3 separate regions of the Homo sapiens genome follow, and all the other regions are linked to region 1. Evidence: fine-mapped expression QTL. A gene starts in region 1. Each other region holds a variant in brackets. All regions are shown on one strand. Distances are between the middles of the regions.

Evidence for each region. PIP is the estimated chance that this variant, and not a neighbour inherited with it, causes the effect.
Region 2: its variant is the best candidate, but not a certain one, in a credible set for the expression of SLC9A7 in blood mononuclear cells (TOPMed, PIP 0.53).
Region 3: its variant is the best candidate, but not a certain one, in a credible set for the expression of SLC9A7 in lung (TOPMed, PIP 0.61).

Annotation. Positions count from the first base shown.
Region 1 is chrX:46,754,074-46,764,741 of GRCh38, forward strand. It overlaps SLC9A7 (solute carrier family 9 member A7), which reads right to left and starts at 5,045. Exons shown (of 17, transcript NM_001257291.2): 1 at 4,632-5,045. The coding sequence starts at 4,956. RefSeq lists silencers at 4,817-4,956, 4,977-5,326.
Region 2 is chrX:46,686,050-46,696,717 of GRCh38, forward strand. All of the region lies in intron 1 of SLC9A7 (solute carrier family 9 member A7), which reads right to left. Among named protein-coding and RNA genes, the nearest start is that of SLC9A7, 68 kb to the right of the region's middle. The variant A/C (reference allele first, on the strand shown) is at 5,078.
Region 3 is chrX:46,713,042-46,723,709 of GRCh38, forward strand. All of the region lies in intron 1 of SLC9A7 (solute carrier family 9 member A7), which reads right to left. Among named protein-coding and RNA genes, the nearest start is that of SLC9A7, 41 kb to the right of the region's middle. RefSeq lists an enhancer at 1,104-1,203. The variant T/C (reference allele first, on the strand shown) is at 5,170.

The DNA.
Region 1 (10,668 bases):
CCCCAAAATATACAATTTTCCTCACTTCCACTAACTGTGTCCTAATGCATTTTAAAATTACAACAGTCCACTACTGAACAAACCTCAAGTAGTAAAGCCTGCCAAAGAATCACAAAGCCTAAAATGAGAATGGGAACTAATATTTACCAAGTGCTTAAGTGTCAGACACTGCACTTGACCCTTTAGAATATCTCAATAACACAGCAATTCTGTGAGGTAACATAATCTCCATTTTCCAAAAGAGGAAGCTAAGGCTCAGAGAGTTTATCCAATGCTATACAGTTTTATAAGCAACAGGGCCAGCATTTGAACCCAGGGTTATCTGGTACCAAAGTGAGACCATACAGAAGCTGCTCCCAACTGGGGCCAAAGTGAGGGGCTCTTAAAAGGGGGGACTCCTGATTAACCAGGAAGGAGATGGTTCCAAAATGTTTGCTTACAGGTTCAAATGTTAATTTCATGTTACCGCAAAGAGTCATCTTTTTCCCCTTCAGACTCTGCCTATGAGCCCACTCTCAGGCTGTGCTTAGCAATCCAGCTCCACCACAGCAACAGTGAGCCCACAACCCATAGAACCTAGAGGGGCTGATCAACATATTTTTGGAAAGGTGATGGGGTGGTGGAGGAGGAGGAAGCGAGAAGCAGGTGGTGGGTTAGCATGGCAGAGTCAGATTATTTTGGATCCATATCAGTTGTCACAAAAACATTATGGGGGAAGTGGAACTACCGTACATCTGAGAGAGAACCACAATGAACTGGCACAGTCTGTTTATACCAACTTTCCCTGCCCTAAACACTTTCTATTTCTGCTGCAAAGACATGTAGGGCCCAGTAACTTTAGGATGGCACTTAATCACATAACAGAGACAGACAGCTGGGAGCTCCCTGGCCTGACAAAACAGGTTAGACTGGTGGCAGGCAAGTGCCTGGCCCCGCTGCCTTGCAGCTCCAGTGGTGGGGTCTGGGGGCTGCTTTCAACCTTCCTGGGGAGTTAGGTCTGTAGCTACCTTCCCTTGTAGCTGCCCTGGCCTGTCAGGGAGGAATGCTTATAAGTGTCCTTTGGTGGGTGGGGGAGTTCCTTTCTGTTTAAACGTTAAGCATTCACAGTGTGTCTTTTATTTTCCTTAGGTCCTCTGCATCCAAGCAAGCACTTATTATGGGGTCTATTTGTGCACATCACTGCTAATGTAACATTGACTACTCTCTGAGGATAATGGAATAAAGGGAAGGAAAAAGAGGGAGAGAGCGAGTGGGAAAGAGAGGGTGAGAGAGGGAGGGAGGGAGGGAGAGAGAGAGAGAAATCTCTTCCCCTTTCCCCATTTTATCTCCATCCCAGACACAGGGCTCAGAAAAGCTCCAAGGGCACAATTAAGAATTGAAAAGTCATGAAGAAAATTGATAACATAATGTGATTTAAATAGGGAGAAGTAGGCGTCAAATTGAGTGATTTGAGGAGCACGTTAAAATGCTATTACAGCCGGGTGCGGTGGCTCACACCTGTAATCCCAGCACTTTGGGAGGCTGAGGTGGGTGGAGGTCAGGAGTTCAAGACCAGCCTGGCCAAGATGGTGAAACCCAATCTCTACTAAAAATACAAAATTTAGCCGGGCATGGTGGCGGGCGCCTGTAATCCCAGCTACTCAGGAGGCTGAGATGAAGAATTGCTTGAATCCGGGAGGTGGAGTTTGCAGTGAGCCGAGATTGCGCTACTGCATTCAAGCCTGGGCGACAGAGTGAGACTCCGTCTTGGAAAAAAAAAAAAAAAAAAGCTATTACAAGACCAAGAAGCATACAAGGTTATATGGTGACCTCTCCCTCCCACTCCTATTTCACAGCCATCTAGTTCCTCTCCCCCAAGGAAACCAATGTTACTCATCTATTGCATGTCCTTCCAGAGATATTTTACGACTATACCAACAAATATATAAATTTATATATATATAAATTTATCTTAAATGTAAACGCTGTTCTTCTCAGATTAAAGTGTCACTTAAACACAAAAAGGTGGCAGAAATTACATTTTAAAACTTTTTCTCAAAATAAAGAGTTTTGAAATTCACAGTTGAACTCTTTCATTCATAAACATTTAAAAGTTAAATTGTTTGCCTCCAGAAATTAAGTTGGGTTCCCAGCACACAGTGGATACTTTAAAAATGTTTCCTTAGGTCTTTTTGTCGTTCCTTATTCAGAGCCAAGAGGACAATTACTCACTTCCTCTATTGATATAGAGAAATCAAATTTTATTTTTTACTATTAAAAAAGAGAAGTCTTGAAAAATCTTTACTGGATTTACTTGTGTTCAAAGATTTGCTTGACAGTAGTAATCATTTCATTGTGTTTATCAAAACATCATGTTGTACATCTTAAATGCAGACAATTTTTTAAAAGATTTGCAAACTGAATTTTAAGATCAGTTTAAAATCCCCATCCCAATAGTCTTCAGTATACTATGAATAATTAGCTAATCACATGACATTAGAATTCAGATTAGGGGGACCTTGCAGTAGAAGACCAAACATACCTGAGAGAAAGAAGAAATGTTTTCTCACAATTACAGACAGTCCTTAAAATATTAATATTTGGCATAACCTGAGACATCACATATTGACAAACTAAATTTCTTTATACATTTAAAGAAACACTAATACTCAAAGATATAGAACAAAATTACACAGGAATGCTGAGATGATATTGCCTTTTCTGAACAGCCATCAGTTACACTAGATTTGTAACTTGATTGTTCACAAAATAAAACAGTACACTGTAGCACAACCAAATGGCTGAAAGATGGAGGTGAGTTTTAAAAGTACGTATCAGCAAAGGAAAATTCCACTGTTGTCTTTAAGCCTTAAGATAAAGGTGATTGAACTCCTCAGAACACGGAGTACTCTCCAGAAAATATATTTTCAAATCCCCATTTATTTTCCATCCCTTGAGCATGTGTTTACGAATCTGACAAATCTACCTCCTATTTCACATTGTCCTTTAAGAAACTGGGTCTAGGGCCTATTAAATAAAAATATTTTCACGGTTATCTATATAAAGGCAATTTTCATTTGCATCATGGCTTGGAGTCAATCACCTGCAATGACCACGTGCTTCAATTCCCCCCTGTCTGTCTTCTCAGGAAACCTCCCAGCTTACCTGCAGGCCTGGCATCAGTCATTTATCACCAACTGACACAAACCACAGAGCTCAACAACGGTCAGGGATGGAGGCCAAAGTCTGTGTTGAGACCTATAATTCGCAATCACCAAACTCGGTTTTAGACCTGGTCCTGTTTCAAGATCTGTGTAGGTCACTACTTCATCAAAACTGGAGGGCTCTTAACAGCGCTTGCCCCTTACACGGTTTGGCTGCGAGGGCCTGGTGGCCATGAGCCCCGGCTGTCAACAACTAATCAAGAAACATGAGAAGCAAGGCCCAGAACCAAGGGTAATTTTCACATTAAAGGTTAAGGTTTCTGCTTTCCATTCTCTATCAGGGCACCTGGATGGAAACTGAATAAAGAAATCCCTCAGTATATGTGATAAAATAAAATTTTCCCCGTTGGGAACAATCATGAAGTGGCTCGTCTATTTCGTGTGAGGATGCCAATTCAGGGGCTTTAACACCACTGAATTACATTCAAAAAGAGAATACCTGACTCCACTTTGGAGTCATGGGCAGGGCGAGGGGGGAGGCAGGGGGCACAGAAGAGGAAGAGGGATGACTCAGATTATGGCTGACATCCATGTAATAAAGGGAGATTTGTACTGACCACTGTGCATGTAACACACTGTGTACCATTAAATCTAGAAAAGGATGGTAGCATCAGCCCACCCCTAACAACAAAAGATGGCTGACTCCGGAATTAAAACCACGACTTTTCCCCTTCATACATTCGGAAATGTATCTCAAACTCACTCCCTGTTACCGTCTTAGGAATACAAAAGCTCCTCTTCGTTTGAGAAAGCAAGTAACTGGGTATAACTTTCCACTCGGGACATAAGAGCAGGAGGCGTGCCTGTCTCCTCGTCCAGGCCTGACATGGTGGTGCCACCCACTCTGGGTCCTGGACCACTGCTCACCTTTCACCACACTTCATGCTCTGACTTTATCATTAAGAGACCTGGGAATGTGGACCTCAGGAGTGGGTACCCACCCAGGCTGACCATGGATGTGGCGTCCAAGAGGCCCCACTAACCCATACCCAAGCAAAGACACTTTCAGACTTCGTCCCCACTCCCTACTGTGGCCTGTCCCCTGAGGTGATGCAGTCACCTGGGAAGCCACCCACCTCCAGCCACCACGCAGGCACACACACCCTATCGAGCTCAACTGGAGCGGGAGGTGGTGGGTAAGAGGTTTGCAACAGAGACCGAACGGGGCAGACGGAACCGGACCACCTCTGTCCCTTTCATTTTCCTGGGTTCCCAATGCAGAAACGTGGAATAGGGGTGGAATTGTTTTTAACGGTAGCAGAGAGCCAGAAAATGCAGACAGTTGACCTTGGGAACCAACACCGTCGCAGCGGGAAACGTAAAAGAAACGGAACACGTTGGCAAGTGAAGGGGGAGCACCGCGCGGCGCCAGGAGGAGCGCGGCGGCCGAGGGGTGTGGAGGGCGGGGGGTGTAACAGGGGTGCTCACCATAGATCATGGCCAGCCCGGTCTCGTGCAGAAAGCGCACCCGGCGGTGCTTGAAGAGCCAGATGGTGAGGATGGTGAGCGTGAGCAGCAGGATGAAGGTGAGCAGGCTCACGCTGTCTTGCCGGTGGCTCTCCTCCGCCTCCTTCTCAGTAGCGAGCTCCTCCATGGCGCTGCTGTCCTCCGCCGCCGCCCCAGAGGAGGAGGCCGAGGCCGCGGCCGCGACTCGCAGCCCCCAACCCAGCAGCAGCGGCAGCAGCAGCAGCCGCGGCGGCGGCGCCCCGGTAGCCCGACCCGAGCCAGGGCGCGCCGCGTCACCAGGCTCCATGGTCCCGGGGCCCCCCGCGCCTCCTCCGAGCGGGGACCAGCAGCCCGCGCCGTCGGCGGGTTCTGGCAGCACCGCGGACCTGCCGGAGTGGCCGTGGCCGCTGCAGCTCCTCCTCCTACTCGCGCCGGGCCGGGGCTGCGCCCGGGGCCGCGCGGGGGAGGGGCGCGCGCAGTGCGCAGGATCCCCAAGCACCGCCCCCCGCCCGCGCACCTGTTCGTCCCCCGGCCGCGCCACGCCGCACCGCCCCGCGGGCCAACCGAGCCACCCAGGCGGGGCCGGGTGTTGCCCTCGGGTCTGCGGGCCGGCCGCCGGCTGCTTGCCTCTCTGCGCTTCTCACCCCGTCCTGGCGCACCTGCCCAGGCAGTCTGGGGTCGTGGGGCCAGTTCATGGGCAGCCGCCGCCGCACTTCCGAAAGGGGACGCCAGAGGTCGCCGGCGCCTAGCGGGAGCATCGGCTTGGAGTGACTAGCCTTGCGGTCTCGAGTCCCGTCTCTGGCGCCACGGCGAAGTGTTTAATCTCAGGCCAGTGTGCAGCCGCCCTGGGCCCAGTAAAGTGGGGGCTGTCAGTGAACCGAGCAGCCCCGAAGCCACGTTAGCCCCTACACCTCTCTTTCCTCATCTCTCAGGTTGCCCTTCCAGCCCCAGAATCTGCTAGGTTTCATTCAAACCTCTGTTCTCATCAGACTCAAATGTGAGGACTGATAAGGAGTTGGAATCGGGGGAGGGCATTGAAGTATCTCCTTCCTCACTTGAGGGAATAGACTTCGTCTGCGCTGTGCTACTAATCCCCTTGGGGAATAGGGTTGAACCAGAAGGAACTGAACGCTTGCCATTCCTGGTAGATGAGCAGTAGCTGGTCCTAAGGTGGTGGTGGGGGGTGGGGGTTACCCTGATGACCCTTTCTTTTATGTTGCTCACCTGGTAGCTCAGAGAGTCTTTTAATGACTCTTAAGACCAAACCCAGCTCTGAACAAAATTATGGCGTGGACTCTGAAGGATGAAGCCTCTTGGAACAAATTCTCAGGAAAACTAGAATCTTCAATCCACCTTGCTCCTCTGGTCAAGGAAGAAACAAGATCAGATTAATCACTGAGTTCCCAGTGCTTAGCACTGTACTCATGTGTTTATTGAACCACTCTGAAATCTCTACCAAAACTGCCCATGTTTTCGCTCCCAGGGGAGTTTGCATTTTTAAGAGGATTCATTGAAGAAGGTGATGCTTAACCAAATGAAATAATAGGGTAGAGGTAGCATTAGGTAAGAAAACTCTTTGGAGTACTGCAGCCTTCCTGGTTCCCCTGTAGGTGAGCACTCTGCCAAAGCTGTTTAGTGGTTTCTTTAAAGCAGGGAAATCTCTTCATCTACATTTTAGCTAGCCCCTTTCCCAACTCCTCTAGGCAGTCACTCAGCCCCTGCAAACATCCGTATACCTTGAAGTTCCACACAGGTTTCCAATAAAATTGCAAATACTTAAAACCTGGATGGGCACTGTGTTGGTCATAATATTATGCCCCTTTGGGTGCCCAGTACTCAAGGACAGAATTTCTCTCTTTAGAAAAGGGCAACTCAGGAGCTACCTTAAAAGTACAGACTTCTTAGTATTTGTGGCGGATTGTATTTTTTAAAAAGATGGCCACAATCATATTTCCAATCCCAGAACCTTACCATCCCCCATCAAGAAGGGGCATCTATGTTCCCTCCCCTTGAACCTCAGTGGACCTTTGTGACTCCCTCAAAGAATATAATGTGGTAATGGAGATTATGTGATTTGTGAGGCTAGGTCATAAAAGGTAATCTAGCTCCTGCCTGTTTCATTCTGTCACTTTCCACTCTAGCTAGGCTGGGCACGGTGGCTCACGCCTGTAATCCCAGCACTTTGGGAGGCCAAGGCGGGCGGATCACCTGAGGTCAGGAGTTCAAGACCAGCCTGACCAACATGGCAAAACCCTGTCTCCACTAAAAATACAAAAATTAGCCGGGTGTGGTGGTGTGTGCCTGTAATCCCAGCTACTTGGGAGGTGGTGGCACGAGAATCACTTGAACCTGGGAGGCAGAGGTTGCAGTGAGCCAAGATTGCACCACTGCACTCCAGCCTGAGTGACAGAGTGAGACCCTGCCTCCAAAAACAAAAAAACAAACAAACAGACAAAGAAATCTAGCTACCTGGAAGCTGACATACTGAAGAAACCATGTAGAGAGACCATGTAGCAATAGAGGTAGATGCCACAGGAGACCCAACTTTTTGAGTGTTCCCAGCCCAAATGCCACACATGTGAATGAATGAGTCTTCAAATCAATTCATTCCCAGCCACCATCTTACTGTAGACATATGAGAGGCCCCAAGCAAGAACCATGTCGCTGAACCTAACCAACATCTGCAACTGTAGCATAATAAAATGATTGGTGTTATTTTAAGCTACTAAGTTTGAGGGTGGTTTCTTCCACAGCAATAGATAACCAGAAGAGTATTTATTATGTAAAGTAGTTCCCTTGGGTAGAGTATGAAAAGACTAGTCCCAACCATTCACAAATACACACCAAAGAAAACACTCCATTATCTCTACATATTTATGTGTGAAAACTAACCTATATAATACAGGAGTTCTGATTTCAGTTAACACAGAATAATCACACTAAACCCATTACCTGCTACTGAATACAGCTATAAAATGTGAACAGAATGCATGCAGCAACTATTTGAGGACTCTGGAAAGTAAATTGTACCACATAAACTGAGGAAAAACAACAGAATTTGAAGTAAAACTGAACTGGCGGTGAGTTTACCATTTTTTTCCTCCAGTCTCCACTAGACTGGACTCAAGGCAGCTTAACACCCGGAAGGGAGCATCAACATGGACAGAGAGAGCTCCAGGAAAAGCAGAAAATTGGTCTCCTAATATTCAGAGAAAGTAGGAGAAATGTGCCATTTTTTTTCTTTTCTCCATTCTCTTACATTTTAGCCAATAAGCAATCCCACTGTGGCACCTCAGTCAACAGTGACAATGGAGACAGCAATACCTTCAAGCACCCAAAAAATGCTAAGGGAGGGGAGAACCTTCCTCTCTGTTTGAAGTAGCTCTGGTCCCAAGACAGTGGGGCCAAAACCTCAATGATATATATTTTTTCACTCTCTCTGTCCTGATGCTTGGCCCAAGACATGGGCAAAGTTTCAGGAAATACATAACAGAGAGGATTAAATAAAGACCCAGATTTCTGGACAGGCACAGTGGCTCACCCCTGTAATCCCAACATTTTGGGAGGCTGAGGTGAGTGGATTTGTTGAGGCCAGGAGTTGGAGAACAGCCTGGGCAATGTAGCAAGACCCTGTCTCTATGAAACATTTAAAAATAAAATTAGCTGGGCACTGTAGTGCTTGCCTGTAGTCTTGGCTACTCAAGAGGCTAAGGTGGGAGGCTCACTTGAGCTCAGGAGTTCGAGGCTACAGTGAGCTATGATCACACCACTGTACTCCAGCCTGGGCGACAGAGCGAGACCCTGTCTTTAAATAAATTAAATAGTCTAGATTTCTTGCCAATTGATTAAAAGGGGAACTCCAAGGCATTACAAAGTACCAAGGAGACAGTAGAGAGGAGAGGACCTTGGGAAAGGTCCTCATAAAGTTTTTATGAACTCCTAGGTTCACCCCAACCTGCACATGGATCTGATCCTAAACAGCATACCAAAGACTGTGATAACTGAACTAAGAGGCAGACCACCACCCAAGCCCTAGACTAGCCACTGGATAAAACACATGTAGGACAGATCTGAATAGCATTACAAACTTTTGAAAACTGAATTGACTTTGGAGCCACTATCCACAAAAGGCATGTCAGAACTTGTGATCTAAACCCAAGCATGTCTATTACAAACTAAAACAAAAATATGAATATTTCCCCATAGTATTAAAACAAGATACAAAGTCCTATAACATAATATTCAAAATGTCCAGGATACAACCCAAAATTATTCAATACCTGAAGAACCATGAAAATCTTAACTTGGGTGGGAAAAGGCAAACAACAGACACCACTGCTGAGGTGACACCAATGTTGGAATTATCTGAAAAAGACTTTAAAGCAGCTATTATAATGATGCTCCAACAAGTAAGGACAAATAATCTTGAAATGAATGTAAGGATAAAAGGCTCAGCACAGGAGTAAAAGATAAAAGAAGAACCAAATTGAAATTTTAGGCTGGGCACAGTGGCTCACACCTGTAATCCCAGCACTTTGGGAAGCCAAAGCGGGTAGATCACAAGGTCAGGAGTTCCAGACCAGCCTGGCCAACATGGTGAAACCCCATCTCTACTAAAAATACAGAAATTCACTGGGCATGGTGGCATGTGCCTGTAATCCCAGCTACTGGGAGGCTGAGGCAGGAGAATAACTTGAACCTGGGAGGTGGAGTTTGCAGTGAACTGAGATCGCACCACTGCGCTCCAGCCTGGGTGACAGAGTGACACTCCATCTCAAAAAAAAAAAAAAAAATTTTATAAGTGAAGAATACAATAGCTGGAATTTTAAAATTGGATGGATGCAATAGCAGAATAGAGATGAAAGAGTCAGTAAATATGAAAATAGATCAATAGAAATTATCCAACCTGAATAGCAGAGAGGAAAAACTGAAAAATAAATAGAGCCACAAAGACCTATAGGAGATAATAAAATATCTAACATTTGTGTCTTTAGAGTTACAGAAGGAGAAGAGAAACAGTGTGGTACAGAAAAAAAGATGTGAAAATATAATAACTGAAAACATTCCAGATAAAGCAAAAGACACAAGCCTGCAGATTGAAGAACCTCAGCAAAACCCAAGCAGGATAAGCCCAAAGAATCAAAGCACAGACACATTATATTCAAACTGCTGAAAAGAAAAACAAAAAAATATGTTTAAAGCAGAAAGATAAAAATGAAATATTACATACAGGGTAACAACAATTCAGATGACTACGGATTTCTCATCAGAAACCAAGAAGGTCATAAAGACATGCACAGCATTTTTAATGTGCTGAAAGAACTGTTAACCAAAAATAATACATCCAACAAAAATAGATTTCCGTGTGAAGAAATAACACCAATACTGTACAGTCTCTTCTAGAGAGTCAGACAGTTGAAGAAAAGAAAGCTACATACCAATATCTCTCATGAACTTAGACATAAAAATTCTTAACAAAATATTAGTAAATTGAATCTAACAATGTATAAAAAGAAGTGTACACCATGACCAAGTGGTATTTATCCTAGGATTACAAGGCTTGTTCAACATGAGAAAATCACTCAATGCAATCCACCATATTTACTGTCTAAAGAAGAAAAGCTGCCTGATCATATTCACTGATGCGGAAAAAAGCACTGACAAAATTCAACATCCATTCATGATAGCTTTCAGCAAAATAGGAATAAAAGGGAACTTCTTTGACCTGATAAAGAGCAGATACCCGCCCCCCCCAAAAAAAAAAACCGCACAGAATATCTAGCATTATTCTTAAAAGACTGAATTCTTTCCCCCCAAGGTCGGGAAAAGGCAAGGAAGTCCACTATCACCACTCTTAGTCAACATTGTATTGGAACTCCAAGTCAGTGCACTAAGACAGAAAAACGAAATAAAAGGCATACGTATATAGCAAAAATCACAATATGTAAATTTTAATGGAATGCTGGGGAAACAGAGGAACTAAAAACAGAGGGAACAAAAAGAAAAGGGAGGAAAAAAG
Region 2 (10,668 bases), 68 kb before region 1:
AATTCCTCAATTAGAGGAAACATTCTTCAACTCTCTTCCAGTAATCATCACTATCATATTTACAATCATCACCAGATGACGAATATTGCTTTTTAAAGTTGTAAAACCTTTTCTTCTCTACCCTGGGCCCAATGCGCTCATATTAAAGATGGAAGGGAGACAGCGAAGGTGGTGATGCTGCCCCCTTGTGGTTAAAATATGGCAACACAAAACACCACAGCAGAGATGTAAGGTTAACACCATCCTGACAGTTTTGACCAAAAATATACCAAGCCACAGGGTACACCACTAACTCAAGGTAGAGTTTGGGTACCTCCCCAGACATTTTAGATTCATATTTATTACCACTATATTCCATGGCATGATATTAAGTTCATATTTGGCGTTTTCCAGTTGAAGAAAGAATAGGATATTAGAACTGCAGGAAGGTAATTAGGTGAGAAAATGATAAAGACTTGGAGAAAACATGAACAGCATATTTTCATCTGCTGGATCTCGGAGACATCCTGACAGGGAACTGTGAAGTGGTCATAGCTACAAGGAATTAAAACATGCACTAGATTTTTTTTTGAAAGCTTCAGAAAGTTCAGTATTCATAAAAAATGATGGAGAGCAACAGAAGCACTAATGATTTGACCAGATTAACAGCCTAGTGTTCTAGATCACAAAGAGAAATAACCTACTGTGTGTTTGGGCCAGGGAAAATAGCACATAAAATGTCAGCTGATAAAGAGACAATCACTGATTTCGTAGGTACATTACTAATGAAAGAATTGTTTTGAACTTTTACAGAAAGCAAATATGGATGAAATTCCTTTGACATTTGATGTGGCTTAAAACAAGATGGTAAACTCCAAAGGGGCAAAAATTCGAGACTGTTTCAACTTGTGGATAGGAAAAAAACTCACTTCACAACTGTACTTGCATATATATAGTTTATGTATGTGCTTATCCAAAACTTGGTAGTATGATGAAGGAATATAATCATGAGAGCAACGTGTGGTTTAAAAATCCCACGGGTTCATTAAAGAAACCAGCTCCCATTGGTCTGGTGCCAGTTTTCCTTTTGTGGCTGAGGCTGTTGGGAGGAGAGCTGAACAAGTGGACATGGTGAGGTTTAATTCTAGACAGCCATCCATCAGCTACAATATTTAAATGTCTATGTTAATAAGCCTTTGTTACGGAGGAGAACAGGTACGTGGGTGCACTGTTCTTTAGTGAGACCTCATTTTTTCTTATGTAAGGTACTGAGGGTAGGTGATCACCTGATCAGTGTGGCCACCACTGTGGAGTTTTTTACAGCACAGTAGGGGTTGTTATGAGTTTTAAAGCTTCATCTGAAATTCCAAGAAAAGAAAGTATCTCATTTTGCATCCAGTTACACAGTGTTTGAAGATGGTGATAACTATTTCTAATTCAATGAATAAAGAGAATCCAATGGATTCCAGCAGTTGACAATGACTTTTCAGGTTTGGGGGTAATTTACATGACTTGGATTTTGAGAGTGAATATTACAGCCCTTTCAATACCTTGTTCTACTTGTTCTGCTACTTATGCAGCTGTGTTATTCGTTGATATATTAGTTTCAAGGAGAATTCATTCAAAATATTTTTGTTCCTTGTTTTGAATATGTGGTGAAACTAAAAAGCAATTTTATTAAGGTACAATTTACATACCATAAGATTCACCCATTTTAGAGTATACTATTCAATGATTTTTAGTATATTCACAGAGTTGCACAATCATCACTGCAATCTGATTTTGAAACATTTCCATCTGCAGTCACTTCCTGCTTCCTACTCCAATTCCCAGGCAACTACTAATCTACCTTCTGTACTATAGATTTGCCGTTTCTGGACTTTTAATATAAATGGTGTCATACAATATGTAGCCTCTTGTGTCTGGCTTCTTTCACTTAGTATGTTTTCAAGGTTTATCTATGTTGGAGGCATGTATCAGTACTTCATTCCTTTTTATTGCCAAATAGTATTCCACTGTACCAGTGTATCATATTTTATTTGTCCATTAACTAATCAATAAATATTTGAGTTGTTTCCCTTTTTTGTTAATGTGAATAACGCTGCTATGAACATTTGCATACAAGTCTGTGGACATGTTTTCATTTCCCTAGAGTAGATACCTAGGAGTGGAACTGCTGTGTCATATGATAAATCTATGTTTAATATTTTAGAAACTGCCAAACTACATTGGGAAAAATGTATTGTTTTACATTCTCGCCAGCAACACATGAGAGTTACAGTTTGTTGGCCGGGCGCAGTGGCTCACACCTGTAATCCCAGCACTTTGGGAGGCCGAGGCGGGCAGATCACCTGAGATCAGGAGCTCGAGACCAGCCTGACCAACATGGAGAAACCCCATCTCTACTAAAAATACAAAATTAGCTGGACGTTGTGGCACATGCCTGTAATCCTAGCTACTCAGGAGGCTGAGGCAGGAGAATCGCTTGAACCTGGGAGGTGGAGGTTACGGTGAGCCAAGATCGTGCCATTGCACTCTAGCCTGGGCAACAAGAGCGAAACTCCGCCTCAAAAAAAAAAAAAAAAAAAGAGTTATAGTTTGTTTACAGGCACAGCAGCACTTGTTATTGTCTTATGATCATACCTGTTTTAGAGAATGTTCAGAGGTATCTCATTGTAGTTTTAATGTGCATTTCCCTAATGCCTAAAGATGCTGAGCATCTTTTTATGTGCTTATAGGCCATTGTATATCTTCTTTGGTGAAATGTCTCGTCATTCAAATCTCTTGCCATATTTTAACTCAGGTTCTCTTATTGAATGGTAAAAAAAAAACCCAAACTTTTTGTTTTCTGGATAGAAGTCCCTTATTGAAAATACAATTTGAAAATATTTTCCCCAAATCTATGACCTATATTTTTCCTTTCTTTTTTAAAATTTCTCTGATGTTGTCTTAAAATTTTTTTTTTGCTTTATTGTTATACAATGAATTATTTTTTCTTTTGGTGTACAGTTCTATGAATTTTAACACACATATAGATTCATGTAAGCACCACTGCAACAAGGATACCAAATAGTTCTACCACTCCCCCAAAACTCTCTTGTACTATCTCTTCACACTGATACCTTCATCCTACATATTAACCCCAGCAACCACTGCTTTTTGTTTTGTTTTGTTTTGTTTTGTTTTTTCCATTAATACAGTTTTGTCTTTGCAAGGTTAAATACATGGAACCATGCAGTATGTAACCTTTTGAGACTGGCTTCTCTCACTCAGCGTAACACCTTTGAGGTTCATCCAAGTATTGTGTGAATTAACACTTCATCTCATTTTACTGCTAAGTTGTATTCCATTGTATAAACACTCACCTACTGAGGGATATCTGGCTTCTTTCCAGCTTTTGGCTGGCACAAATAAAGCTGCCATGAACACCCATGAACAAGTTTTTATATGAACATGTTTTCATTTCTCTAAGGTAAATACCCAGAGTGGGACTGCTCGGTCATATGTGCAGCATATCTTTAACTTTATGAGAAACTGCAAGCCATTTCTCAAAGTAATTATGCCTTTTTTTTTTTTCAGTTCTTTTTTTTTTTGTTTAAGTTCTGGGATACATGTGCAGAACGTGCAGGTTTGTTACATAGGTATACATGTGCCATGGTGGCTTGCTGCACCTATCAACACATCATCTAGGTGTTAAGCCCCGCATGCATTAGATATTTGTCTTAATGCTCTCCCTCCCCTTTCCCCCTACCCCCTGACAGGCCCTGGTGTGTGATGTTCCCCTCCTTCTGTCCATGTGTTCTCATTGTTCAACTCCCACTTACGAATGAGAACATGCGGTATTTGGTTTTCTGTTCCTGTGTTAGTCTGCTGAGAATGATGGCTTCCAGCTTCATCCATGTCCTTGCAAAGGACATGAACTCATTCTTTTTTATAGCTGCATAGTATTCCATTGTATATATGTGCCACATTTTCTTTATCCATTCTATCAAAGAAATACCATTTGACCCAGCAATCCCATTACTGGGTATATACCCAAAGGATTATAAATCATTCTACCATAAGGACACATGCACACGTATGTTTACTGCAGCACTATTTACAATAGCAAAGACTTGGAACCAACCCAAATGCCCAACTATACCATTTTTTAACCACTGTCCCCTACAGCATCATATGAGGGTTCTAGTTGCTCCACATCCTCATCCACATTTGGTATTGCCAATATCTCTCATTTTAGCCATTCTATTGTAATAGGTGTGTAGTGGTATTTCACCATACTTTAAATTTGCATTTCCCTAATGGCTAATGATGTTGAATATCTTTTTGTGTACTTATTGGCAATCCTAATACCCTCTTCAGAGAAATGTTTCTTCAAGTTATTTGCCCATTTTAAAAACTGGGTTGTTTTCTTATGGGTTCCTTATATATTCTGGGTTCCCTTATACATTTTGGGTTCCTTATATATTCTAGATACAAGTCCTTTGTCAGATATATGATTTGCAAATATTTTCTACCAGACTGTAGCTTGTCTTTCCAGCCTCTTGACATTGTCTTTGGCAGAGCAAAATTTTTTTACTCTGATAGATTAAATCTAATTTATCCATTTTATTTTATTGCTTGTGGCTCTGGTATCATATCTAAAAAACACTTGTCTAACCCAAAGTTATGAATATTTCTTATGTTTTTAAGTGTTTTATAGCCTTGATGCTTACATTTAGATCTCTGATACAATCTGAGTTAACTTAGTGTGTATGGTGTCAGGTTAAGGTCCAAATTCATCCTTTTGCATACGGGTATCTAATTGCTCCAGCACCATTTGTTAAAAATACGGTCTTTTCTCCAGTGAATTCTCTTGGTACCTTTGCTGAAAATCAACTGACCATAAACACAATGGTTTATTTCTGGAGCTGGTGGGAGAAATGGGAGCTGGTGGTCACTGCAGTCTATTCCACCTGCCTGTGATAAATCATCCAGAACATGGATCTGGCAGGGATGGGAGCAATCTTAAATGCCATAGACACCTACTATTCTTACCAAGATTCAGTAGATTTTCTTTAATAAATGTTCCTCAATTTAATTGACCTTTCATCAATTT[A/C]CAGAGACTAAATAGTTATTTTTGACAACTTTGTCCAATTTTATTGCTGTGTTTTGGGAAGAAGATTTATTGAGCTCTCACACAGTCATTCCAGAAGTCCTCCCATGAGCATGAATAACAGAATTCCTACATGCTTGTTATCTTGCCATGTTTTATAAATGTATAAGAAGCAAAAATTTACTGAAAATGTTTGCTTTTGTATATTGTAGCAAATTAATTCTAAGGCATTATTTGTTGCTATTTACCAACTTTTCCTGATATATTTATTTTGTCTGGTAGTAATGAGGAAGCATAATGGAGAAGAATTTGGTAGATTCAGTGACAGAAGACCTGGGTAGGTAACTTCACTTTCCACCTAGCTACAATCCAGCACAAAGTACCTCTCTGCTGCTCATTTCTAAAATTGGGCTGTTGTAAGAATGTAGTGAGAACATGCATATGTCAAAACCCTTTATAAACTGTCAAAAGCTGTACAAATGCTGCTTTTTATGAGCCCTTTAGAATTAGTTATTTTCCTTTGCATCATCTCTTGCTATAAAAATAGTGCATATTGGGGATGGAGGTTAGGAAGACAAGTGATATGTGGGCTGGAGCAAAATAGAAAAAATATCTCTAGAAAAGTAGCTACAGAACTCACTGTTTTTGAAGTTGTCCTGTCCAGCAAAGGCACAGGACACCATAACTTCCTTATTTGTCCCTCTAGCAGCTTCCCAGGTGCCTGTAAAATGAGCACTTCTACAGCAATTTTACAGTTATATAGGGTTTTCACCAGAGGAAAATTTCAAGGGTAGGCATAATTGTCCTTGTATAAATGCTGATTTATTTAGAAGACTCTCCCAGGGATTTAGCAAAACACATAATGATAGTAATAAAACAGTATCATCATATAATGTATCATCATCAATCTTTGTGGCACTGTAGATTGGTAAACAGGCCAAAAAGTAAGCAACCTTACTCTATCAGTTTTCTTTTAATAAGAATTAAAAGACTGCAAGGAAGACAGGTTTCATGGAGCTAGCAACCTTACTATTAAAAATTCCCATTAAAATGGGAAATAAGTATCTGCCATATAATGGGCTAAACCTGAAGTGTGAGACACAAGCCACTGATTTTATTGCTCAATTTCTCTAATGCATTCAGGTCACTTAAAATCAGATGACCTGCATGGCACCATTAGGAAGATTTTTTTCAGAATTGCTTGAGATTCAGCATTGGCACTGAACCATCCGAATGAGATATGAAGCCCACCACAAACAGAACCACAGGTCCTGCCTGCTTGTCCAAGGAAAATCCCTCTGCTTGTGTTTCCTACATACCTAAGGCATGTCTACAGTTGCCCCACACTCATTTTATCCAGATCTCATGCCACTACAAAATGCCAATGTTGGAAGGGACAATACAAGTCCAATTATCCATCACATTTATAAAACACTCTGTTCAACAGCAGACAGGTCTTATACTGTGGTATTCAGAGTCATCTTGGGGAACCAATTAAAGTACAGGTGTCTAGAGTCTCTCCTGTAACTTCTCATCCTGTAGGTTTAGGGGGTGTTTGAGGTATTTTGATTTAAAGAAGTTCCATATCTGATTTCAATGCATGCTCAGAAATGAGAACGAATGGTCTCTAAGCTTCTTACCATGATATTATACAGCTCTTGTTTAAATACAGACAGTGAGGGGGCTCACCATCTTCCAGGTCTATCCTTTTTGCAGCAGGACAACACTGGCTCTCTAAACAGAGTCAAAGTTTGTCTCCCTGTAGCTTCTGCCCACTGGTCTCAGGCCCCTTTTATTATGACCACTGAGAAGCCATACTTCTCCAAGCTCTGGATTCCCACCTCACCAGAATTTTCTAAGTGCCAGTTGTATGAAAAAATCCAAATTGTACAAATACTCGTTCTGTGAAAAATGAATGACCAAAATGTAAGATTTATACACTGAAAATTACAAAACACTGCTGAGAAAAATGAAATGACCCAAATAAATGGAGAAACATCCCATATTCATAAATTAGAAGACTCAATATAGCTAACATGACAATGCTCCCCATATTGCTCTACAGACTTAATGCAATTCCTATCAAAATTCCAGCAAATTTTTTGGCAGAAATTGACAAGCTGAGCCTAAAACATACATGGAAATGCAAAACCACCAGAAGATCGCAAATTACCTTGAAAAATAACAAAGCTGGGTGAATTTCACTTCCACATTTCAAAACTCACTACAAAGATAGTGTGGTAGTGGTATAAGGATAGACACATAGCTCAATGGAGCAAAACTGAGAGTCCAAAAATAAAATGGTGTGTTTATGGTTAATTGATTTTCGATAAAGATGACAATGCAATTCAATTGAGGAAAGGACAATCTTTTCAACAAATGGTGCTGGGACAATTGGATATCTACATGCATAAAGATGAACTTAGACTCTGACCTCCTACTATATATAAAAATTAATACTATATATATAAAAATTAGTTCAAAATGGGTCAAAGACCTAAATCTATGAGGTTAAAATTATACAACCTTTAGGAAAAAAAAAGCCTAGGGGAAAAAATCTGTGAGTTCCTAGGTTAGGTAAATTTTTCACTGATATGATATGAAAAGCACAAACAATAAAATAAAAAATTGATAATTTAAATTTTATCAAAATTCAAAACTTTTGTGCTTCAAAAGACATTATTTGGGAAGCCAAGGTGGGAGGATCACTTGAGGCCAGGAGTTCAAGACCAGCCTGGGCAACACAGTGAGACCTCATCTCTACAAAAAAATTGCAACGTGGATGGAGCTGGAGGCCATTATCCTAAGCGAATTAAGGCAGGAACAGAAAAACAAATACCACATTTTCCCACTTATAAGTGGGAAATAAATGCTGAACACATACAGACATAAACATGAGAATAATAGATATGATGGACTACTTGGGTGGAAAGATGGGGAGTGGGTTGAAAAACTACCTATTGTGTACTATGCTCACTACCTGGGTGCAATATACTCATGTAACAAACCTACACATGTATCTTCTGTATCTAAAATAAAAGTCAAAATTAAAAAAAAAGAAGACTGAGGTGGGAGGACCACTTGAGCCCAGAAGTTTGAGGTTACAATGAGCTATGATCACACCACTGCACTCCAGCCTGTGTGACAGAGCAAGAACCTGTCTCTTAAAAAAAGAGAGAAAAAAAGACATTATTAAGAAAATGACGAGGAAAAAACTGCAGACACATATTTGATAAAGAACTTGTATCTAGGATATATAAATATATAACTCCATAATAAGATAATTCAATTTTAAAATGGGCAAAAGATTAGAATAGACATTTCACCAAAAGAAATTATGAATGACTAATAAGCACACGAAAAGATGGTCAACATTATAGATCATTCAGGAAATGCAGATTAAAACCATAATGAAATACCATTTCATGCCCACTAGAATGGCAATTATCAGAAATACAGATACTAACATATGTTGGAGAGCATGTGGCAAACCTAACCCTCATACGCTGCTGGTGGGAATGTATAATTGTGCAGCCACTTTGGAAAACAGTTTGCAGTTTCTTAAAAAGTTAAAAACAAACTTACCATACAACTCAGCAATTTACACTCTACCCTAGACTAGAATTGAAAACAGATGTCCACACAAAGATTTGCAGACAAATGTTCATACTAGCATTATTCATAACAGCAAAAAAATGAAAACAACTCAAATGTCCATCAACTGATGAATGGATAAACAAAATGTGGTCTATCCATACAGTAGAAAAAGGAACGAACTTGATACATGCTACAACATGGATGAACCTAAAAGATATTACACTAAGCATACATGCTCAGTGAAAGCCAGTCACAAAAATGCCACATATTGTATAATTCCATTTCTATGAAGTGTCTAGGACAGGTATATCTACAGAGATGGAAAGTAGATTCATGGTGGCCAGGGGCTAAGGCATGAAGGATCCTATTGGGATGATTAAGATATTCTGAAACTGAATTATCATGGTCACACAACTTTGTGATTTTACCAAAAATCACTGAAATTGTATACATGAGTGCATTTTATGATATGTAAATTATATGTCAATAAAGTTTTTTTTTAAAAAAAGAGCAAATGAGAAAATGAATCTAGAGATCGCATGTGCGATCCTTTTCCAGTACTAGTGTTCCATACTTTTCCAATAAGTATCTCTCAAAGTGAGAACTGAACTGATGTAAGACCAGCAGACAATATATTCTGTAGTGCAAGGGCTACACGCATGAATACCTATATGCAGATCAAATATGTAACACAAACGTAAATCCTTCAGGACCCTGGAAGAAACAGAGGGGAATATACAATGACTCTCAGGAAGTGATAGCAGGTTAACTATATAGGTGGTATATCTAAATGCAACTTTACTATTATTTTTTCCAATGGGAAACACAGCCTAAATGCCACCTCCTCCAAGAGGCCCTCCCTGACTCCCTAAGCTAGGCTAGGTTCCAAGGCTTTGTAGTCCCACTGCACTATGTGCTTCCTCTTTTGTAAACATGCCACACTTTGTTATAAACATCTGGACAGTTGGTCTGCCTAGCTGGTCCAACTGTCAGCTCCATGGAAGGTGGGGTGTGGGGGATCTGTTGAATTCCCCTCTGTATCCTTAGCACATGGAAGTGCCTGGCATACTAGGTACTCAAAACATATTTGCTCGCTGGCAATCAGATAGAGGCTGAACTACACTCAAACCTATATATTAAGAGTACCCACAATGAAATATATAACAAGAGTTGGTATCCCACTTTGGACATGAGAAAACATTTCTGACTTTAGAAAAATTTCTTTGAATCTCATTTCTCCAACTTTATATTTTTACTTATTTATTTATTTATTTATTTATTTATAGACAGAGTCTCACTCTCTTGCCCAAGCTGGAGTACAGTGGCGCAATCTCGGCTCACTGAAACCTCCACCTCCTGGGTTCAAGCGATCCTCCTGCCTCAGCCTCCTGAGTAGTTGGGATTACAGGCGCCCGCCACCACGGCCGGCTAATTTTTGTATTTTTAGTAGAGACAGGGTTTCTCCAAGTTGGCCAGGGTGGTCTTGAACTCCTGGCCTCAGGTGATCTGCCTGCCTCAGCCTCCCAAAGTGCTGGGATTACAGACGTGAGCGACTGCGCCCAGCCTCTCCAACTTTAAAATAAAGAAAACGTCAGCTGGACCACAAACCTAAAATATTCTTAAAGCACAGACGTCCTTAAATGAAAACCCCCTTCCCACTCCCCAGCCCTGAAAAATTACAGGTTTAGCGTTACAATACATGAAAGCTTCTACCAACCAGGTGCTTAGGAGCAACCAAAAAATAAATCAATAATTCTATCCTGTGAAAGTGATTAGATATCATAATCCTGGTTTTGCTTACTAAACATAGCTCACAATCACTGTTTTCTTCCTTCCTTCCTTATTTATTTATATATTGATGAATTAATATTTCTTCATTCGTGCATGCATTCAAAAAATATTTGGGTACCCACTATGTGTCAGGCCCTATGGTAGAAACTGGACATATGGTAGTGAAACATATATTCTGCTGTCATGGAGTTTACAATCTGAAAGAG
Region 3 (10,668 bases), 41 kb before region 1:
GCATTGTGTGCTATTTAATTCTCATAATCTGATAAGAGGGAATAACCAGTTAAGAGAAATAAATGTTTGCTTAATCCTAAATTCTCAAAGCTGTCAGATGGCCCCTTATCCATGGGTCAATTAGCAAAAAAGGATAACATCTTTAACAACCAGTTATATAGAAAATGCACAAGGCAGGCTGGGCATGGTGGCTCATGCCTGTAATCCCAGCACTTTGGGAGCCTGAGGCGGGTGGATCATCTGAGCTCAGGAGTTCAAGACCAGCCTGGCCAACATGGTGAAACCCTGTCTCTACTAAAAATACAAAAAACTAGCTGGGCATGGTGGCGGGCGCCTGTAATCCCAGCTACTTGGGAGGCTGAGCCAGAAGAATCGCTTGAACCCGGGAGGTGGAGGTTGCAGTGGGCTGAGATCACACCATTGCACTCCAGCCTGGGCAACAAGAGTACAACTCCATCTCAAAAAAAATTAAAAAAAAAAGACAAAAGAAAAGAAAAGAAAATGCACAAGGCTTCTCCAGGAGAAATATTCTTGGGTGACCTTTAGCAAGCAGAGGACTTAACATTGAAAGTTTTTTCTGCGGAGGGTCAAGTTAGTGCCCTAGGTTCATGTCAACATGCAGGTCCTACCCAGAAGAGAATATCCATGAGGACTGGACCACTCCAGGAAAGCTGATCTCCTCCAGAACCCGGTGACTTCCCTGTGGTTCGGTACTTTCAGAGACCACACTATTAGTGACTCTAGTATTATTAGGGGATTTTCCTCTCCCTTCTTAATTAACTCAAGGTTTCAAAACGTTTTGGAGAAGTGAAAAGATACTAGTTATTTCTGTGGGTTTTTTTTTTTCGTGACTGTAAAACACCCAAATATAGTATCTTCCTTTTCATTTTTACTCACAGTTGGTAGTTATTTTTCCTAAACCACAGTTACAATACTCTACCTCAATATACTATACTCAATGTTTTCTGCTTCTTCCTACTACTCTAAGTAATGTGCCCCAAACAGAAAAAGTACATTTTAGTATGCTAATAGTTTCAAATCAGTCAGTGTAGTCTAAGAACTACTTACTGGGCACCCACTTTGTATTAGGGGTTTTACTTACAATATTATCTCTTAATTTTCACCACAACTTTATGAGGTAGGGATTATTAACACCACTTTACAGTTAAAAAAAAAAACTGGATCTTCAAGAGTAAGTAACTGCCCTAAGACCACATAGCTGGTAAACTGTAGAAGTAGGATTCCAACTTGCATACTTCCAATTCCAAAGCCAGAGTTCTTTCTGCTATTTCCTGATGTCTCCCAGATGACAAGTAAATTATGGATATTTGGCTCAGCTTTGTAAATAATATACATGCCTACTACGTTGAAGCCCCAAACCTCCCCTCAACACAGGATGCTCTATATAATCTGGCCATAATGAAGCCCCTCCCCAAATTTTATTTCCTACTGGACTCTACAAGGACCTCATCTCCACCCCAATCTAATTTGGCAGGTTTCACTATTGCCTCCATACTTATGGACAACACATATATTTTTTGAGATCCCCGACAAATATTTTTTGAGATCCCCGACAAATATTTTTTGAGATCCTACTATGTCCCAGGCACTGTTCTAGTGTTTGGAGATATATGTCAGTGAACGAAACAAATACAAATTCCTGCTTTTCTGGACTTCGTTATATTTCTAATAAGGGAAGAAACATAAGAAACAAAATAAGTAGATTACATGGTATGTTAGAATACGGTAGGTGCTATGGCTAAAAATAAGGCAGGGAAAGGGTTAAGGAGTGTAGTGTGGAGTAGAGGATTGTGAGTTTAGAAAGAACCAATAGAAATCCTGGAAAAGAAAAACATGACCTTAGCATTTTTATTTCATTTTCAAGTTCAACAGCAGACTAGACACAGTAAAGAGAGAACTGGCAAACTAGAAGATAAATTTGTTGAAAGAGATTCATTCATCAAGCAAATTAATACTTATTGAGCATGTACTATATATCAGACATTGCGCTAGATTAAATTATTCCATCTTGACAAAATTCCTTTCCACTTGGATTATGTTCCCAGGTTTAATTTCAACTCTTTAAGACCCTACCCAAGCTCCTTACTCACATTGATATCTCATTTCTCTCAATAAGTATCCTAAAAATAATTTTTAAAGAATTTTTAAAGTATTTATTTATATCACAGATTAGTCCAGTTCTTAAATTATTCCCTCCCTAACTAGACTGTAAATTCCTTGAGGATCAGACCTATAGGTAAGATTTCTTTTCTATTTCACATGTGGAATAGCACAGTAACAGGCATACAGTAGGCATTCAATAAACACTTGACTGATTTGGTATATTTTTGGGTCCCTATAACTGAACAGCTTTTTCTTTGTAATGGCTCAGTTACAGTTAGTTCCTGGAAATGGTCACAAAATTGTTAATAACTACATTATGATTCACTGATCCCAAAAATATGAGTCCAGTGGTATAAGGTTAAATTCTGAATCTAATCAAATTTTTGCGAATGTGCCCTCATTCTCGGTTAGTTGAAAATGACAAATGTCGCACAGAGTGTATTTTTCAGTCTTGAGAAGCCTTATACATGCCCTCTGACTTAGAATTGACTTACAATTTTTCCCCTTTAAGATGGTGCAAAAGCGATACACATTCAGTAGAAACTGAACTTTGAGTATCCATACAACCATTCTGTTTTCACTTTCAGTATGGTATTCAATAAATTATGAGCTATTCAACACTTTATTATGAAACAGGCATTGTGTTAGATGATATTGCCCAATTGCAGGCTAATGTAAGTGTTCTGAGCACATTTTCGGTCAGCTGGGCTAAGCTATGATGTTTGGTAGGTAAGGTGCATTAAATGCATTTTCAAATTGCAATATTTTAAACTTATGATGGCTTTATCAGGACATAACTCCATCATAAGTCAAGGAACATCTGTACATTACTTAATTTTATTTCTGGCAAAAGTCCTTAAGGCAGGCAGTGCACATATAGACAGCCCCTGACTTATAATAGTAATCTTATTTTATAAATCAAGATGTTGAAGTCTAGAGATATTAAGTGGTCTGCTCAAGTGAAGATGGGTACTGAAGACTGAAGGAGTGACTCAGACCTGAGACTTCTAGATCCCAGTCCAATGCTCAGATGCATAAACCTAGATGCATGATATATCATTAAGGGGATAAGTGGTAAGGTGAGAATTTGCAGGGCCTTAGAGGGCTCTGACTTGGTAAAGATATGCTTATTTTGAGCACGCAAATAGAAACCAGCCAGTTTCTTTATTAAAAAGAGAAGAAACAAACATTGATAAACCAAGAAAGGAATCCCTATTGCCTGCCTTAATTCAATAAACATTCAGCCACTGGATGCTATGAACCCTGAGACGACTTAGGCAGGATCCTCTTCAGTAAGACCAGAAGCTCTAGCACACAGCACAAATGCTGCAACAGACACAGGTGCTACAAAAGCACAGAGGGGAAGGAATTTCCTTGCCCAAGTCTGTTCTCAAATTCCCACTCACTCACCCCCTAAAACACTTTAAATATAGAATCATGCAGACTCTATGGCTATCATAAATGTACTGACTCTTCTGGTTTAAAATATCCATTGTAACCATTAGCAAATTGGAGATCTAACTGATTTATACCCAAACAAGAAGGGACGATTCTGATATCAATAGGCAAATAGTACCCAAGTGGCTTTAAAACCTTATTTGAAGCTATTTTGATCATAATGTGTTTCTTTTTATTTATTTATTTTTTCCTGTTTCTGATTCTAGTTCCCTGCTGTTTGGGGAAGGGGAAACCACCTTGTACTGAAGTCACTTGGCTTCTGGATAAAGCCAGAACTCTGACCAAAACGATAAAGGCTGCCCAGGACAGAAATGAAACAAAAAATCCTAGCCCTACTTCTCCATTGTGGACACCTGGTCTCATGAGTTATGGCAACACGCATCCACCAGAATAACCGCATTTTCCTAAAGAAATTGTGAAATAATTGGGAAGGGGGTGTCCCATTCTTGAGTAAGTAATCAGCATTGCAGACAAGAACTATGTCATAAAAACCAAAGTTGAAATTGTGTTACATATTCCTGGAAAATACTCAAAAGGTGCTCTGAGTTCTATAAGATGGACAGATACATTATACATACTAATTATACCAAAGGTCAGGTGATTAGAAATGCCACATTGTACCACAAAAATCACCCTGATACTTGTGTTAATTTTTCTTGTATTTGTGTAATAAAGTGTTTTGAAGTTTTTAAGAGAAAATTACTGCACAAGGAGCAGTCATCTTCTTAAATGTCCCAAAAAATACTGATGTAGGGTCATCCAAAATCTTTTTTTTGAGACACAGTCTGCTCTGTGGCCCAGGCTGGAGTGCAGTGGCACAATCTCAGCTCACTGCAACCTCCACCTCTGGGGTTCAAGCGATTCTCCTGCCTCAGCCTCCTGAGAAGCTGGAATTACACATGTGCGCCACTGTACCTGGCTAATTTTTGTATTTTTAGTAGAGATGGGGCTTCATCATGTTGGCAAGGCTGGTCTCGAACTCCTAACCTCAAGTGATCCACCCATCTCAGCCTCCCAAAGTGCTAGGATTACAGGTGTGAGCCACCATGCCTGGCCCCAATCTTTATTCATTTCAGAAACATACTTTAAATATTTATCCAACTGCAACTTTCAAGGGCTGTGAAAGACCTCTTAAAGGAGAACTACAAACCACTGCTCAATGAAATAAAAGAGGACACAAACAAATGGAAGAACATTCCATGCTCATGGATAGGAAGAATCAATATCATGAAAATGGCCATACTGCCCAAGGTAATTCATAGATTCAATGCCACCCCCAATCAAGCTACCAATGACTTTCTTCACAGAATTGGAAAAAACTACTTTAAAGTTCATATGAAACCAAAAACGAGCCCACATTGCCAAGACAATCCTAAGCCAAAAGAACAAAGCTGGAGGCATCACGCTACCTGACTTCAAACTATACTACAAAGCTACAGTAACCAAAACAGCAGGGTACTGGTACCAAAACAGAGATAAAGACCAATGGAACAGAACAGAGCCCTCAGAAATAATACCACACATACACAACCATCTGATCTTTGACAAACCTGACGAAAACAAGAAATGGGGAAAGGATTCCCTATT[T/C]AATAAATGGTGCTGGGAAAACTGGCTAGCCATATGTAGAAAGCTGAAACTGGATCCCTTCCTTACACCTTATACAAAAATTAATTCAAGATGGATTAAAGACTTAAATGTTAGACCTAAAACCATTAAAACCCTAGAAGAAAACCTAGGCAATACCATTCAGGACACAGGCCTGGGCAAGGACTTCATGTCTAAAACACCAAAAGCAATGGCAACAAAAGCCAAAATTGACAAATGGGATCTAATTAAACTAAAGAGCTTCTGCACAGCAAAAGAAACCACCATCAGAGTGAACAGGCAACCTACAGAATGGGAGAAGATTTTTACAATCTACCTATCTGACAAAGGGCTAATATCCAGAATCTACAAAGAACTTAACAAATTTACAAGAAAAAATCAAACAACCCCATCAATAAGTGGGTGAAGGATATGAACAGACACTTCTCAAAAGAAGACATTTATGCAGCCAACAGACACATGAAAAAATGCTCATCATCACTGGCCATCAGAGAAATGCAAATCAAAACCACAATGAGATACCATGTCACACCAGTTAGAATGGCGATCATTAAAAAGTCAGGAAACATCAGGTGCTGGAGAGGATGTGGAGAAACAGGAACACTTTTACACTGTTGGTGGGACTGTAAACTAGTTCAACCATTGTGGAAGACAGTGTGGTGATTCCTCAAGGATCTAGAACTAGATATACCATTTGACCCAGCCATCCCATTACTGGGTATATACCCAAAGGATTATAAATCATGCTGCTATAAAGACACATGCACACATATGTTTATTGTGGCACTATTCACAATAGCAGACTTGGAGCCAACCCAAATGTCCATCAATGATAGACTGGATTAAGAAAATGTGGCACATATACACCATGGAACACTATGCAGCCATAAAAAGGATGAGTTCCTATCCTTTGTAGGGACATGGATGAAGCTAGAAACCATCATTCTGAGCAAACTATCACAAGGACAGAAAACCAAACACTGCATATTCTCACTGATAGGTGGGAATTGAACAATGAGAACACTTGGACACAGGGTGGGGAACATCACACACCGGGGCCTGTCGTGGGGTGGGGGGAGGGGGAAGGGATAGCATTAGGAGATACACCTAACGTAAATGACGAGTTAATGGGTGCGGCACACCAACATGGCACATGTATACATATGTAACAAACCTGCACATTGTACACATGTACCCTAGAACTTAAAGTATAATAAAAAAAATTTATCCAACTGACTAAAATGGGTTAAACTAAAAACACAAAACCAGTTAATATATGAGCATAATAAATAAAATAAATAAAAGAGCACAACAAAAATAATAATTTTAAAAGTTGTTTGAGGAAAACCATAGAAAATAAGCTTAAAACTTTGTGCTTCTTGCTGACAAGAACAAAATAGAAAACACTAGAACAAACATAGGTTTCCTACTCTAGCTTAAGGTTTGATAACTCAAAAAAATATTTTGTTGGTCTTGTGCTCTAAGAAGAAACTATCTCAGGGTTTTGTGGAAATTAGGGGGAGGGGGCCACGAAGGTCAATAGCCTTAATAACATTTTTCTCCTAAATGTGAAGGCATTCCATATATGAGTAGCTCTAAGAGAAAACTAAAGACATAAAGTTAGTTTGGTTCTATAAGGGCAATTCCAGGAGTGAAAGGCTGAAGGGCACAATAACATGGTCTAATCTGTCATTTCCTGATGTTTTGACTTAAATTGTTTTTTGAGAAACTAGTAAGTAATATATTCCTTAAGAACATTCCTCTCTCAAATACCAAAATTTTCAGCCAGCCTTCTGACAAGAACAAGATGAACAACAAACATGATTAAGGTCATTACTGAGGACCTCAATAGCTGGTAACATAAAAGATCTATAGGCTACATCTTCCAGGTATGTTGGTTGTAATGATACTTGTTATGAAAAAGAAATCAAAGATCTTGACCTGCATATTCTTGTCTGCTGAAGAGAAGTTCTATAATCACAAACAAGACTTTCCTCAGAAACTAACTTTGGTTCTAGGACTTGAGCAATTATTTGATTCAAGCATAAAAACTTAGTGCCACTGAGTAGCACCTCATCACACCCATATCCTGTCCTTTCCCACTCCTGCCAACTCTACTTCTCAAGTATTTTCCTGATCACCCCCTCTTCTCCTTATTATCATTACTCTGGTTCAAGCTCCCTGACTGGATTTTCTGCAGTCGTTTCTTAACTATCCCCCCTGCTTCTCCCCTGATTCCCCAATCATTCCTTCTCCATCAGCCACCAGACTAATTTCTCTGAATCACAAATGAGGCTAGTCACGCCATGACCCTGCTTAAAATTATTCAGCAGCTTCATCATCCATGGGAAAAAAAAAAATCCAAGCTCCTTAACATGGCATTCAAGGCCCACAAAGCACTGGCACCTGCCAATTTCACTTCCCACTGCCATCTGCCCCTACACATAAACACTCATATTCAACTCCTCAGAATTCCCCACATACACCTTGCATCCTCCTCTACCTGGCATTATTGTCCTCCAAGACCTCCCTCACAGCCGTGGCAGAGAAGAGAAAAGAAGGGGACCCTAGCTGATGGAACTGATCATCCAAATAACTCCTGAAGATCACTGAGATGATATAACAAAGCAAAACCACCTACGTTTTTAGACTGCCAAGACTATATCCTGAATTTCCAGAATAAAACCTCTCAAAAAAGTGATAAAGCATCACATGAGTGGATGTTAAACGTAAGGCCTCACAGTACAACAAAATCTAAACTTAAGAACAAACAGGCTGAACAAAGGACTTCAAATCGGCATGCCCACAAAAGGATCGCCTCTGGTCCTTATACATATAACTACATTAATAATGATTTAAAACATTTTTTCTTACTGCAATTATCTTTATGGTCCTTTTTGAAAATATAATTTGATTTAAGGTGATCTTACAAAATTCCAGGGAATAATTCTTATTCTTAATAAAGTTTAATAGTCTGTTGAGATTCAAGTGTTCCAATAGGTATGGTTCTTTCCACTTCTAAAATTAAATCACTTAATGAGAATTGCCAGAAAGAGACTTCATTAGTAATTATCCATAATGGTAGAGAACACACAAGATACATTTGCACTGTTCTATTGTTATAAGCCAGCAGAAGAGTGGAATTTTCAAAGATGCAAATAGTTCCCCTCGGTCATATTACCCTGGATAGAAATTAGAGCTGCAAGCTAATAGGAGACTGAGGGACAAGGGCATGCTCCTCAGCCTGTGGTTTCTCTGGCTTCCAAAGCTAGAAGCAAATGATTCTTTTTTTTTTTCCAATCCATCCATTAAGCTTCCAAGAAATAAACACGTTTGCTTCAAAATTCAATTCCCTGTGGGGTTATCTTCAGATGCTGCATGGGTTTATTAGAATTAATTGCAACACAGCACAGCTTCCAAAGTGAAGGCCCAGGGTTGACAAAAGACCCTCCCTATCACAGCCACCAACCCACCAAAGGCTATGGGGACTCTCTTGCAAACAATATCTGAGCAATCTCGAGGAAGACAAGCAAAGGCCTTGCCTTTCTCAACTTCAGTCTAGAGCAGGTAGGGAGGGGTAGCCCATAAATGAGTAAACAAAGAGAAAAGATGATTACGTATTGTGCTAAGTGCAGTTAGTGAAGGCAGTCGGCGATGTTTGTCAGCAAGATGCATTTTTTTCCATTTTGCTTCCCACATCTGCAATCAACATATAACTTCATGGTATGAACTATTAAACACATAAACACTAGAACAAATGTGGGTTTCCTATTCCAGTTCAAGGCTTGATAAGTCAAAAAACTATTTTGATGGTCCTGGGTTCTAAAAAAACACTGTTTCTCTCTGGTGGGTGTGTGTGTGGGTGTGGGGGTGTGTGTGTGTGTAAGGGCGAGTAGTGAGTACTAGGGTCAACAACAGCCTTAATAGCACGTTGCCCCCAAATACAAAGGTGTTCCACATATAAGTAGCTATGAATGTGGGTTTCAAAACAAAAGCCTTAACTTAGAGTTTTATTATGTTTTAAAATCATCACTGTCTTAGTGTTTAAACACCTGTTTAAGTCCTCTTAATAAGGTAGAAATGCCTGTTTATGGCTTTTTAAAAATATAAACACAAGGATCCATAGCTTTAAAAAAAACACTTTGTTTCTGTGACAATGTTTGTTAATCTAGCTAATTGAGTTACTTGCAGAAAAATGGGGAACAGAGAGTGATAGTTGAGTTCTTCATGTACAAGTAAGCACTGTTACTCCAAATACCTTAGTTACCTGAATTATTCTAAGGTTATTTGTAAAAACTAAAATTCCACGAGGCAAAGAAGGACTTTTATCAATCCCATTTATATTTGATTTCTGTATTACACATAAAGAATTGGACTATTAAAGAAAGTAACCAAATGAGAGATGGATGTTTAAAAATAACATTAAATGAGTGATTTGGGAACTCCAAAACTTTATGTGACCAAGTTATTTCTTCTCTGTGCCTACAGGTCTTTGTCACACTGGGATTGCAATTTATTAGATGCCATACACAAGTTCTATTGTGGGCTCCAATCAGAGGTACAGGGAAAACCTCCAGAAGATTCTTCCTTAGTAAGCAGCAGGTAACGTTCTGTAATTTTAGGCCACCACACGGAACCAATTGTCACTCACAGTTTCTGTCACAGAGTGGGATGTGTCACACTTCATTTGGTGCAAAATATGACAATGAAAAACACAACTTGATCAACCTATTTTAGCAGCCTCTGTTCAGCCATCAGTGTGAGGAGCTGGAGTACTGTGACAAAGCATTAGGCTCCTTACAATGCCGACCTAGAAACCAAATCACTGCTTTGTAGCAAGGAATGAAAATCAGGATGAAAAAGCTACAGTTGATCTCCCCACCCAGCAAAGGAAATATGGACAAAATACAATCACCACCACATATATAACAGGTGGACTTCATGTAAGGATTAATATAATGATTCATGTAATATAAGGCTCATCTTCAAAAAGGAATGATTTGCTCCCTTTGCCATGACTAATGTGTCTGGGTGGGGCAGCCCGTGGTGTATCGGCAATAAGATTTCTACAAAAAAAAAAAAAAAAAAAGAAAGAAAGAAAGAAAAAAAACAGAAAGAAAAGAAAAGAAAGCAAAAACACCACCACAAAGCAATGTCTGAATCCCTGAGTCAGCCCCAAATGCACACTCATTGTTCAGACTTGCCCGGGTTTCCTCCCAAAGAAAATTTACTCACTCTCCTATGGAAAGGCAAAGTAGGAGACTACAGGAGCATCAAAGCCATGGACCCTGTCAAGGATGCCAAGAGGAGGGGGAAATACACCTTCCGACCTCAAGAATTTTGGAGAGGGGGCTGTCTCAGTAGCAAAGCGGGTCAAGAAATGTGATATGAGGCCCTAAAACCATAGCATAGGACTTCCTCGGTATGTAGGACAGGGGTACAAGCCAAAGGGCAGGTGCTATATTCACCCACACACACCAT